3 separate regions of the Homo sapiens genome follow, and all the other regions are reported to be linked to region 1. Evidence: microRNA targets listed by miRTarBase, many of them from high-throughput screens and not tested one by one. Region 1 holds a microRNA gene; each other region holds the end of a gene's coding sequence.
Evidence for each region. The annotated mature microRNA hsa-miR-7843-3p reads AUGAAGCCUUCUCUGCCUUACG and lies in region 1 at 2,386-2,407, opposite strand. An mRNA with a match to its seed (bases 2 to 7 or 8) in the 3' UTR can be bound and repressed. Matches are read on the target gene's strand: a 7mer-m8 pairs with bases 2 to 8, a 7mer-A1 pairs with bases 2 to 7 and ends in A, and an 8mer does both.

Region 1 (4,160 bases):
CACCTCCCAGCCGTCAAAATTTAGTCTGCTGGTTAGGGTGGTTCCTGTTTCTTTAGCCAGCATCACTAGCATCTGTGAGCATCTTAATTGTGTCCTACAGGGTTGGGAGTCCCTCCTGCAGGCTTGCTTTAACCTAGGGTTCACCCATTTGGGGCACTTTTCACACTGTTGAAGTTGCCCATTTACTTGTCTGTCTCCCACTCAACCTCGGTGAGAACAGGGGTTTTGCCTGTTCTTTGTGGTATCTTATCACATAGCGCAGAGCCTGGAATATAGATGTGCTTAAAAAATATTCACTGCAGAGCTGGAGATCACTGCGGAAGCAGTGTAGAGAGGTGGTTATCAGTGTGGGCTTCAGAGGTAGACAGATGTGGGTTTGACTCATGGCCCTGCTAACTCACTACACCCACTTCCCCAATGCTGTGTTCTGGTTTCCAGATTCTATCACTGACTTATTACAAGCCTTCAGATTTTGTAAAACACTTTGAGGCTTTCCTGGAACAAATAAAGCATATAACTGCACATTTTGGTTTCTATGTAATACATAACCCATCTAGGAAAACGATCCTGGGATTTTGCTGTGCGCCTATCTGAAATGGTTTCCACTGATGAACTTAAAAATAACCAAATCTGAAATTTTAACTACCCACAATGCCTTGAACTTGTGTTAATAGGTCAGGCAATGAAGGGGACAAATGAACACCTTATGACAACCACTTGAGTAGATAAGCAAACCTGGGCGTCTTCAAATGTATATCTCCCTCCATCTTTGACATTTTGACTGGTTATCTCATAGCTGTGAGAATCCAGGTTGATTGCACTTGGAGCCCCTGGAGCCAGAAACTCTTGCCAGATTTCTTCTACCCTCTTGGCCACATCCTGTAGGGGTTGTTTCTTAAGATCTTGGACAGCCAGCCAGAACCTGAAGTGGGAGCAGAAACACAGTCAGTTCCAGGGGGCTCAGCATCGGGATGTTGCCTGAGATGGCCCCAGAGCTGATGTCCCATGAAACCCATTCTGCTGCATCTCTCAGCCTGCCCTGATGCCACTACATGAGCTGCAAAGACCATGGAGATTGTGAAAACATCAAAGGTGTTCCTATGGTGCAGAACAGAAAAGAATTGCATATTAAAAGATCAATGTGCTTCTCGTTATCAGAACGGGATTTCTCTCCTTCTACATGAAGGTTTCTCAACCTCAGCACTATTGCCACTTCAGGCTGGATAATTCTTTGTTGTTGAGGCTATTCTGTGAAATGTAGGATGTTTAGCAGCAACCTTGGCCTCTACCCACTAGATGCCAATAGCAACCCCCCTTCCCAAGTTATGACAACTAAAAATGTTTCCAAACATTGCCCAATGTCCCCTGGGAGATGAACTCATTCCTGGTTGAGAACCCCAGTGCTACATACATGCCACCATGCAGACAGTGTGAGACCCTTTGTCAAATCTAGTTGGGATCAAGTGATGGCATCAAAATGGAGGAGAGATCCCAGAAGCAGGCAGTGTCCTGGAATCATAAAGACTATCTGTGTAAGAATGAACCAGCCATTCCTATTATAGATGGAGAAACTGAGCCAATTCACATCAGTGCTCAGCACGGTGCTTGGCAAATAGTAGGTGCTCAATATATGGGTTTCAGAGTGAAGACGGACGCATCTGGAGCAATGCTGAAGAGGCATATGTTGAAAACTTCTCTGCAGAATGGTTCTCCTTCTGCTGAGAGCAAGAGAGAAAAATCTGCTCACTTCCGTATTTGCCTCTGTTTAATCCCTCAGCATCCGCATGGGAGCAGTGAGCTCTTTTCTGCTGAGAGCAGCAGCAGCCAGAGCCAAAGCTTGGACAACAGCTACCGGGTCTTAAGGATGGTTCCCAAGGCAGCCTTGCAGCAGGATCCAGGTCTGGGTGTCATATCCTTTGCCCTGTGCATGGACAGGCCAGCTCCCCCATCAGTGAGTAAGAGAGTAGGTCCTGTGCTGGTTCCGAGAGCAGCGGGAATCACAGGTAGTCTAGTCAACAGAAAGGGAGGGACAAGCGAAGCTGAAACATGACGTGGTGGAAAGTGCAGACAGTGCATTCAATCTGTCATCAAATTTCATCCAAAGTAAGATGTACTTGTTTCTTTTTTTTTTTTTTTTAGGGTTAAACATGTTTTTCTGTTGCTGTTCAGAGAAATGTCTTTGGAGCCAAGTGCATGGCCCAAAGGTGCCACTCAGTGGCAGACTGGAGTAATGCAACCCAATTTCTGCAAGGCAAGACGACTGTGTGTGTGTGTGTGTGTCCCCAAATGCTGGGCTCCAACTCTTCCCCTGATTTGCCATTTTTTGCCATTTAGGATTCTGATGATCTCCTTAAAGGAACCTCTCAGCGACCCTGCAGAGCCAAGCGTAAGGCAGAGAAGGCTTCATGACTTCCATCAGATCAGGAAGCTGGCTCTGCCCTCATCCTGTCTACGCCATATCTTGCCTTGGTGTACCTTTCTGGGTGCCTCTCTCTTCATCTGTAAAATGGGCACTGAGTGGATGGAGGGATATGTGGCATGGCTCTGGAAAACTTCCTATGCAGACTTAACTCAGAAATGCTTTCAGGTCCTGTGAGGGGGAGCTGAGGAGGGGTCAGTGTGGTGGCCACAGGCTCAATGCTGGCCCAGTGTGATCCCTCGGATTCCAGCCTTCTCTCCGCAGGTGGCCTGGGCAGATGCTGCCGCCCAGCTCTTGCTGCTGCCATCTGGTGTCCCCTGCCCTTCCACAGCTCTCTGACAGCCACAAGTCCTGGGTGCTCAGGTCCTTCTGGCTTCTGGGTGAGAGGAAAGCAGTCGTGTTTCTTTATCCAGAGTCCAGAGAGGGTGGGGAAGGAAGGGCTTGAAAGGAGCTGTTCCCCTACCTCATTGTTCAGGTGGGCCCTTGACTCTTGAGCTGGGGCATGGGTCTCCTCCATCTCCCAGGCCTGCCCTAGGTTCTGTAGGGCTCTCTGTCCACTCTCTCAGGTCTGCTGTGAAAAGAAGGAAGTGGCCGGGAGGCTTGCCAAGTGAAAATGGCCATCTGCTGGTGAGAGTACCTACAAGGCTTTCTCTGCCTGGAAGGCCATGTCTGACCAGTAGGTGAAAGATGCGGGGAACCTGGCTCTATAGGAAGAAGCCAGTGTTGGCTTTTCCAAGGCCCAGAAGGGGTCAAATGTCCAGAGACGAAGTCAGTGAGGCTTCCTCAGCCCCATGCTAGGCAGACAGGAGAACCAGGTTCACAGAGGGAGGCCGTCTGGGCTGAATCCCTGGCTGGAAGCAACCTTCTGGGTCAGCGTCTTCCCACGCCCCCTGGGCCCCTGCAACTTCTCACACAAATGGATGACACCTGGGTGATTTCCTGCCCCCTCAATCAATGCCACATGGGAGGTCACTTTCTGTCACCTCTGTCAGCACTGAGGAGGAGCTGCTGAGCCCCTGTGGGAAGGCCCTGAGGACCCTGGGAGCTCTGCAGGCTCCCTGCGGTTCCTGAGGGCTCAGGGTCCTTTTTGCAGGATGATTTGGGTGCCACATGAAAATGTACATCACTCAGCTGGATATAGAGATGACCGGAGCTGATGGAAATACAAATTTCATAATCAATTTTTTTGAGACAGGGTCATGATCTGTCACCCAAACTGGAGTGCAGTGGCTACATCTCGGCTCACTGCAACCTCCGCCTCTCAGGTTCAAGCTATTCTCCTGCCTCAGCCTCCTGAGTAGCTGGAATTACAGGGGCATGTCACCATGCTCAGCTAATTTTTGCATTTTTAGCAGAGATGGGGTTTCACCATGTTGGCCAGGCTGGTCTTGAACTCCTGGCCTCAAGTGATCCGCCCGCCTTGGCCTCCCAAAGTGCTGGGATGACAGGCGTGAGCCATTGCACCAGGCCGCGGAATCAAATTTAATAAACTTTTATGTAAAAATAAAAAGGTTTTCTTTGTCACATAAAACCAAGAATTTTTTTAAGTACAAGTGAAAACAACAGGCATGCTGGAGGAAGAGGAAGGGGAGGGGAGAGAAAGGGAGGGAAGGAGGGGGAAAGGGCAAGAAGGGAGAGGGGGAAGGTATGGGGTAACATTCCCTAGACAGCAGTTTTCTCTCCCTGCACACACTGGGGACTCTCCCTGGCCTTCTGTCTGCCTTGGAGTTGACCTGCCTTG
Region 2 (4,160 bases), not on the chromosome of region 1:
CCCTCCCCCAGTCCCGATCCCGCTTTCCTTTGGGGTTTCACCTCAGAGGACCCGACAGCACTCTTGCAGGTGGGAACCTACACAATAGGAGTAATGTGGCTCCACCTTCCTCTCGGGACTCGGGACCTGGGGGTGGAGACTTGGAAGTTGCAAAGCTCTCGGTGCCGGGAATCGGGGCTACGGTTGAGTGGGATCGGGCCAGGGCTGAGGTGGTCCCACCCGTGTAGGGGCGCGGAGAAACGCCTCGACTGCTTCACTGTACCACCACCCACCCGCCACGGGCCTGGAAGGAGCCGCTAAACATTCCCGAGCCTCAGTTTCCTTAGCACAAACAGGCTGGTAGTTTCCTGGTGCTTGCCAGATGCCTGATGGATGAGAAAGCCTCCTGCGGCCCCGAAAGGGAGTCCAGAGCAGAGGCGGGCCCGCGGTCCACTTTTACAGGTCTGGACGGACTCACGGGACCACGGTCTGGGTGGGGCATGCGGAAGGGCCTAGGCCAAATGGGGAGTAGTGGTGAGGGCCCAGGGTCAGACTGGGGGGTGGAGTGAGGTTGTCTGGGAGTCTTGGCTTTATGAACCGGAAAACCAGGCTAATAATTGAATCCAATCCAAGGGATATTGTAAGTTGTGATGTGTTGACTGCAGTGCCGCTCCCTATAGTTGCGCAGGGTGAGGGGCGTTTGGGTACTGAAATCCCGCACGGTCTCCTTGCTACGCCCGTGTCTAGGCCAGACAGCCTCTGCTTACCATAGACACCAGTTTCTCATCCACAAAGGTGCCCAAGGCCCTGCTTGACACAACAGTGTTACAAGCTGTTAGCTTTGATGATTACTTGTTATATGGGGGAGTTCAACAAGTTGGTCGGTGTCCTTAGGAAAGTCACCCCTCTTCTTTCCTGTGCCTCCGTTTTCATTGTCTTTAAAATGGGTATAAAGTTGGCTGACAGGTGAAGTTGAAATGTGCACAGGTAAGGGAGGTAGTGCTGCCCACTGCCAGCAGGGGGCAGCTCAGGCAAGGAAAAGACCCCAGTGCTCTCAGGACCCCCCAACCAGCTACGTGATCACATTTTTATGATCACAGATAAGATGAGCATATACTGAGGTCCCTTGCTAGCAGTTTGGCATGGAGGACCTCATTTAATTCTTGCAAAAATCCTGAGGTATGATCACTTTACCCATTGTACAGATAGGGAAACTGAGGCTAAGAGGTTCGCCGACTCCTATAACACCACACAGTTCAGATATCCCTGGCCCCAACATAGAGATACACACACACAGTCACTCACATGGAGCAGTCTATCACTGGAGTCATAACTCCCCAGCCTTGGCTCTTCCCCATGGGAATGCAAAAGGGGTCGGTGAGGAGCAACAGTTACGAATCAACTGTGTTACAGGTGCTCTCTGTATATTCACAACCACCTGGCGAGGTAGTGACTGTTATCCCCTTTAGCACTGAGGAAACTGAGGCTCTAACAGCTGGCAAAGGCAGAGCTGGGACAAGACCAGGGCTCTGACCTCCTCCACCAATACCTCTGAATCCTCCCCAGCATCTACTGTGGTGCCCTTTGCTGGTCTTTCCTCCTAGGGTCTGAGGTTCCCCACTGGAAATGGGATCAGAATGTTCCCCTGCCTGGTTCCCAACAGGGTCAGAAGAGAGAACTTGGAAGAGTTGGATTTTGAGTGCTTTGTGTGTTGTGTGTATGTTGAGGGGAGAGAAGTTGGAATGCTCCCACACCTCCTGCAGCATCCCCACCCTCCCCTTCACCCCCACTGCAGCAGTGCCATGCTCTGGAAGCAAGAATCTGATCACACCCTCCTCCTTCTCTCATCACATTCGGGTGCCCTCTGTCTTCTCAATAACCCAGGTCTGATCTCCCTGGCCGCAACCAGCTGTGTGGCCTTGGTCAGGTCCATCCCTCCCCTTGGAATCTGTACTTCCCTAGGCTCTGTCATCTATTGGGGACGATGCCCAGGTCAGGCCTATACTCAGAGCCTTCTTCTCTTCATCTCCAGAACAGCCGTCTGCCTGTCTTCCTGGCTCGCTCCCTGCAGGAATGGTCTGGGGCAACCCCAGCAACACGCCCACCTGTGGCCAGGATGAATAGGAATCCAGTTCAGGCTTGGCTTCCATGGCAATCAAGGCCCACCAGGCCCCAGCAACCTTCCCTACCCCCCATTCCTTTTTGCTGCCCCCCTCCACACCAGGCATGTTCCCTGCCACACCATGCTGTTCCCCTCACCTGGGCTGCCCTCCCAACTCCTCTCTGCCTCTGGAGATGCTCTGCCATTCAAGACTTGGCTCAGGCTCCAGGTCCTCCCTGGGCCTTCTAGAGCCCCTGGTTCTCACTCCTCTGAACACTTCCAGCCTGGCTAATAGCCCACTGCATCCTGGCCTGGGGTACAGGTGGCCAGCACAGGTGTGGGGGCCAGCTTCCAACACAAGCACGGGTAGGTCCCTCTGCAGACCATGGGCTGCAAGAGGCCCGGCCTTGCCCACTGCAGGGGCCCTGCGCAGGGCTGGGCACGAAGCAGGTGGGTGTCCACCAATCTAGTATCCAAAACCCTGCTTGGTTCACCCCCACCTCTGTTGAAGGAAAGCAACACTGTGATGGAGAGGAGCAGCTGTGGATTCAAATCCTGGCTTGGCCACTTTCTAGTTGTGTGACTTGGTGCATCTGCCCTCATCTCCTCAGAGACAAAAATGGCAACACCTCCCTTCTTGGGTTACTATGAGGATTAAATAACAAAACCTCCAAGAAGCAGAGCCCGGTGTCTGGAGAGTGCTCAATGGACGTAGTTATTATTATCATCATCAGCACAGTGCGGGGCACATGGTGGGCATTCAGGGATGATGGCCCTTGTGTCACAGCCGACACTCTTGACCAGTGAGTCCTCTCTCCTCCCTTTGTTGACTCCTGACCGTCCACAAATGAGGTTCAGAATCCTCCATCCAGCATCTTCCCTGGTCACATGGTCCCAACCTTTTGCTCCACCCCCTTCTCTGTTCCCCCCGCAGTCCATGCTCCAGCCATCCTGACTCTGTCCCTGGATTTCTGGCTTACTGACACCTGAGCCTGTGCACAGGCCCTCCCTTCTGTATAGAGCACGCTTCCCATCTTGTGGACTTGCTTCCCATCTTGTGGACTCGGAGGGTTCCGAGCAGCCGTTGAGGCTGAGCTCCTATGACACCTCCTCCGTGAAGCCTCCCTCACTTTTCCATTACCAGTGAGGCCTGCCACAGCCTGATTTGTACTCTGATCCTGGCACGCATGAAGCCGTGTTGCCATTTGTTAACAGTCTGTCCTCCACTAGACTGTGAACTCCACCAGGGGGGGAACCAGGTCTGATTGCCTCTGTGTCCCCAGATACCACTTAGCACAGAGTCGAGCCCATAGTGGCTATCAGCAAGTGCTAGGCCCAGCCTGCCACCCACCCACCACTCACTTGGGGGCTGGAGGCATTGCACGCATGCGGGGCATGTGGGACTTGTGGGGGCAGCTGAGCAGCGAGGTTTATAGAGGAACCCAGGGCGGCAGCAGGAAGGATGAAGGATGAGTGTCTGAAACTGGGTTGGCAGGCTCAGGGCATAGCCAGCCTAAGCTGGGGGTCAAAGGCCCCTGGCCCCTTCACTCCCCCAGGGGCACACAGTGTCGGCGGCACGATGTGGGATGCCCCAGGAAGGGCAAGGCCATGGGGCTGGGCTTTCCTCCATCGACCCAGGACAGAGCTGGTGCTGAAGGCCCCATCAGCATGACTGGGGTGGAGATCTTGGGGACCTCCTTGGGGGGCCACAGTTGGGGGGAAGGGCACAGCCCATCCAACATGTCCATCTGGTGTGGCTGTGCCAGCAGGGAGTGTCCCACATGCAGAGCTCCCTCTGGGCTGCAGGAGGTGGGGACCTGGGTGGGCAGGTGGGCACAGCAGCAGGGGGCCCCAGGGAGCCTAATCCAGCGGGCCCTGGAAAATGAGGCGGACGCAGCCATGCTCGCCGGTAAGCCAGGCCCCGCAAAAGGGGCAGGCGGCATGGAAAGCATGGGTGCCGTGGGGCAGTGGTGTCTGGGCCCAGTAGCGGGCAGTCTTCTCAGAGCAGACGTGGCCGCAAGGTGCAAAGGCATGGCTAGGCGGCCCAGGGTCCAGGCAGAGGCCGGCCTCCTGGCCAAGC
Region 3 (4,160 bases), not on the chromosome of region 1:
GAGACCTACCTGCACCGGATCGGGCGCACGGGCCGCTTTGGCAAGAGGGGCCTGGCAGTGAACATGGTGGACAGCAAGCACAGCATGAACATCCTGAACAGAATCCAGGAGCATTTTAGTGAGTCCCGGGGAGGGTCCTGTGCCTGGCGCCCTTTGCTAAGTAGGGCGGGGTGGTGAAAGGGGTAGGATCTTCTGTAGCCCCAAGAGAGGCTCTGTCCCTAGCACACTCCCCTCCTTTCTGACCATATGGCAGTTCTCAGGGAGCACACCTGGAGACTTCAGGACCCAGGGACTCCAAGGACAGCTCCCCTGTGACTGGGCTTCGGGGCGTGGGGCTCTGACTGTTGCTGTCAGTGACTAGGGGCCCTGCTGCCCCCTGCTTAGGCACCCGGAGCCTTTGGGCCTGAATGAATGATTGCTGTGGCCTGAGGTGGGGCACATTCCTGGGCAGGGTAGAGACTTGTGTATCTTTCCCCCAGATAAGAAGATAGAAAGATTGGACACAGATGATTTGGACGAGATTGAGAAAATAGCCAACTGAGAAGCTCCACCAGCCACTGATGCCAGCCCTGGCACTGCCCCTGCACAGGAGACAAGTGCATTTAGGGCACAGGCCCCGACATCACCCCAAGGACAACGGCAGAAGTAGAGAGAAACTACCTACCTCACTTCAAATTATGTTTGGACTTGACAAAAATAGGTGCAAATGATGGGGGGCAATAGAAGAAAAAATTTGCATTTTGGAAAATTGGGTCCTTTCCCCACTTTTTTAAAGCCACATTCCCCCATCTTTATAATAATCTGGTCACAGTGGTAGTCGCTGGCCCCAGGACCCCCTCCTGATTTTGGCTAGGCATCGTGGAACCAGCTCCAGCCCCTGAAGAAACGATAGATGTGCAGGTTGTGCGGAAGAGGCTGAGTGGAAAATGGTGTGAGCCCCACCGCTGTGCATCGAATGAGGGAAGTGGCAGCAGAGAGGCCAGAGCTGCCCCCTCTCTGTCTCTTCAATGGACCCTTCACAAGTGTTTCTCCTGCCCTTGGGGCTGTCTTCCTTCTCCTGAAATCCAGAGACTTTCTTGCTCATCCCTTCTCCCTTTCACTTCTGTTCTCTGCTGCAGAAAGCAGACTTGCATATCCCTGATGAGCAGCTCGGCTACTTTTGTAAACTTCAGATTTGGAGAGAAACACGAAAGTCTGAATCCTGACCCCTTGAGAGAGAGTGATCTGGCGAGGGCCGATGAAGGGGCTGGGCCTGGTCTTGCCTTCTCTTCTCTCGGTTGCTCCCTCTGCCTAGGCCCCTGGTACTCAGTCACGGCAGCCAGGAGACCCCAGGTGAGTTTCTGAGCGCATACGTAGTTGGTTCTTACCCCCAGGTGTCACACGGGGCCGAGAGCTGAGCAAGAATTTGGAATGGAAGTTATGACCAAGGGAATTATGCTGTTCATTTATAATAGTGGACATTATGGAGAGCTCTGATTCCTACATAATATGAATAAGGATGGATAGGCCGGGCGTGGTGGCTCATGCCTATAATCCCAGCACGTTGGGAGGCTGAGGCGGGCGGATCGGTTGAGCTCAGGCGTTCGGGACCAGCCTGGCCAACATGATGAAACCCCGTCTCTACCAAAAATAGAAAAAAATATAGCCGGGCCTGGTGGCGCACGCCTGTAGTCCCAGCTACTCGGGAGGCTGAGGTAGGAGGATCGCTTGAGCCTGGGTAGAGGCTGCTGTGAGCTGAAATGGCGCCACTGCACTCCAGCCTGGGTAACAGAGCGAGACCCCGACTCAATAAATAAATAAGGATGGATAAATTGTAGCGTATGCACCATTCATTATGCTAAGACATTTTAAAGTAATTATGAGAAACGCTCTACTAATGATTTGTTTTTATTTGTATTTTTCTGCTTATTAGACAAATATATACTCATTTTAAAAAGGCGTGTGTGTATATAAAGTGAGAGTGCTCTCTATCCCTTCTCTTCTGGGATCCTGATTCCTGGCAGCTTGGTGAATATTCTACCATATTGCCTTTTATTTGCATAAACCCATTTTTCTTTTACAAAAACAGGAACATTCTGTTCACACTACTATGCAACCTGCTTTCACTGATCAGCATGTGTTAGACATGTTGACATGTCCAATACACACACATCTTCCTTGCCCTGGAAACACCATCCACCTTCCTTTCTGCGTGTAGCTGTCCCGGCATTTATCTCCTGGTTCCTCTAGTGACAGGCATGGGGGATTTCTAGTACATGGCTGTTATCCACAGTACCACAATGAACATTTTTTTTTTCTTTTTTTGAGACAGAGTGTCACTCTGGCCCGGAGTACAGAGGCGTGATCTCGGCCCACTGCAACCTCTGCCTCCCAGCTTCAAGCAGTTCTCTTGCCTCAGCCTCCCAAGTAGCTGGGATTACAGGCACATGCCAGCATGCCCAGCTAATCTTTATATTTTCTGTAGAGATGGGGTTTTGCCATGTTGGCCAGGCTGGTCTCGAACTGACCTCAAGTGGTCTGCCTACCTCTGTCGGCCTCCCAAAGTGCTAGGATTATAGGTGGGTGCCATCACGCCTGGCCGAACATTTTTTTTTTTTTTTTTTTGAGACGGAGTCTCACTCTGTCGCCCAGGCTGGAATTCCGTGGCGTGATCTCAGCTCACTGCAACCTCCACCTCCTGGGTTCAAGCGATTCTCCTGCCTCAGCCTCCTGAGTAGCTGGGATTACAGGCACATGCCACCGCACCCAGCTAATTTTCGTATTTTTAGTAGAGACGGGGTTTCACCATGTTGGTCAGACTAGTCTCAAACTCCTGACCTCGTGATCCGCCCACCTCGGTCTCCAAAAGTGCTGGGATTACAGGCGTGAGCTACTGTGCCTGGCCTGAACATCTTTTTAAAAAAGATTTATTGCTTATTTATTTTTGTAGCGATGGGGTCTCACTAAGTTGCCCAGTCCAGTCTCAAACTCCTGGGCTAAATTGATCCTCCTACCTCAACCTCCTAAGTAGTTGGGATTACAGGCATGAGCCCTTGACCCAAACTGAACATCTTTGTTCTCTTTTTTTTTTTTTTGAGACCAGCTCTCACTTTGTCACCCAGGCTGGAATACAGTGGCATGATGATCTCGGTTCACTGCAGCCTCGACCCAGTCTCAAGTGACCCTCCTGCCTCACCCCTCCAAGTAGATGGGACTACAGGCCTGCACCACCACACCCGGCTAATTTTTGTATTTTTTTTTGTAGAGATGGGGTCTCACCATGTTACCGAGGCTGGTTTTGAACTCCTGAGCTTAAGTAATCTGCCCGCCTGGGCCTCCCAAAGTGCTGGGATTACAGGCATGAGCCATCATGCCCAACCTTATTCTTATTTTTGAGCGTTGGTGAAAATCACTTCAGGATATTATTCCTGGAAGTAGAATTGTTGGGTCAAAGAGTAGGGACATTTAAAATTTTAATTCATTGTCATTTACACTTGCCAAAGGTTTTTACCAATTTATGTTACTGTGATACAAAAATTACGTGCTTGCCAACAGTATTATCAATGTTTAAAACTTTGCCAGTCTAAGTGGCAAAAACAGATTATGTCATTGTTTGATTTTGATTTAGTGAGGCTTGGCAAACATTAAGTTTCTTAGAAAATCTTTTCTGTTGGGGAGCTGCCCATTCTTGTCTCACTACATTATTATTATTATTATTGAGATGGAATTTTGCTCTTGTTGCCCGGGCTGGAGTGCAATGGTACGGTTTTGGCTTACTGCAACCTCTGCCTCTCCAGCTCAAGCGATTCTCCTGCGTCAGCCTCCCAAGTGGGATTACAGGCATTTGCCACCACACTGGGCTAATTTTGTATTTTAGTAGAGATGGGGTTTCTCTATGTTGGTCAGTCTGGTCTTGAACTCCCAACCTCAAGCGAACCGCCCACCTTGGCCTCCCAAAGTGCTGGGATTACAGGCATGAGCCACTGTGCTGAGCCCTGGCCTGTATCCTACTCTTTGAAAGGAAGTCATTATGTACATGCAGCCCACACCTCAAGGAAGTTACATGCTCTCCTTAAGGGCAGAGTAGCTACCTACATTAATTATTCAACTCCTCTGCAAGGGAGAATTCTCTCTTCTCCCCCACTGATTAATTTATTCAATCATGTACAGAGTTTTTATTA

Region 2: the mRNA of PELI3 is a reported target of hsa-miR-7843-3p. Seed matches in the 3' UTR shown: 7mer-m8 at 3,269-3,275 and 7mer-m8 at 3,196-3,202.
Region 3: the mRNA of DDX19A is a reported target of hsa-miR-7843-3p. The part of its 3' UTR that is shown has no 7-base or 8-base seed match.

The regions. Positions count from the first base shown.
Region 1 is chr14:72,515,113-72,519,272 of GRCh38, reverse strand. It overlaps MIR7843 (microRNA 7843), which reads right to left and starts at 2,453; the gene lies at 2,375-2,453. It overlaps RGS6 (regulator of G protein signaling 6), which reads right to left. Exons shown (of 18, transcript NM_001204424.2): 15 at 736-922. RefSeq lists enhancers at 255-324, 4,002-4,160.
Region 2 is chr11:66,475,948-66,480,107 of GRCh38, reverse strand. PELI3 (pellino E3 ubiquitin protein ligase family member 3) reads right to left here. Exons shown (of 8, transcript NM_145065.3): 8 at 2,771-4,160. The coding sequence ends at 3,941. DPP3-DT (DPP3 divergent transcript) reads left to right here. Exons shown (of 4, transcript NR_120586.1): 1 at 1-69. Among named protein-coding and RNA genes, the nearest start is that of DPP3-DT, 2.2 kb to the left of the region's middle. RefSeq lists enhancers at 281-848, 1,787-2,380, 3,018-3,838.
Region 3 is chr16:70,371,446-70,375,605 of GRCh38, forward strand. It overlaps DDX19A (DEAD-box helicase 19A), which reads left to right. Exons shown (of 12, transcript NM_018332.5): 11 at 1-118; 12 at 480-1,938. The coding sequence ends at 541. Among named protein-coding and RNA genes, the nearest start is that of DDX19A, 27 kb to the left of the region's middle.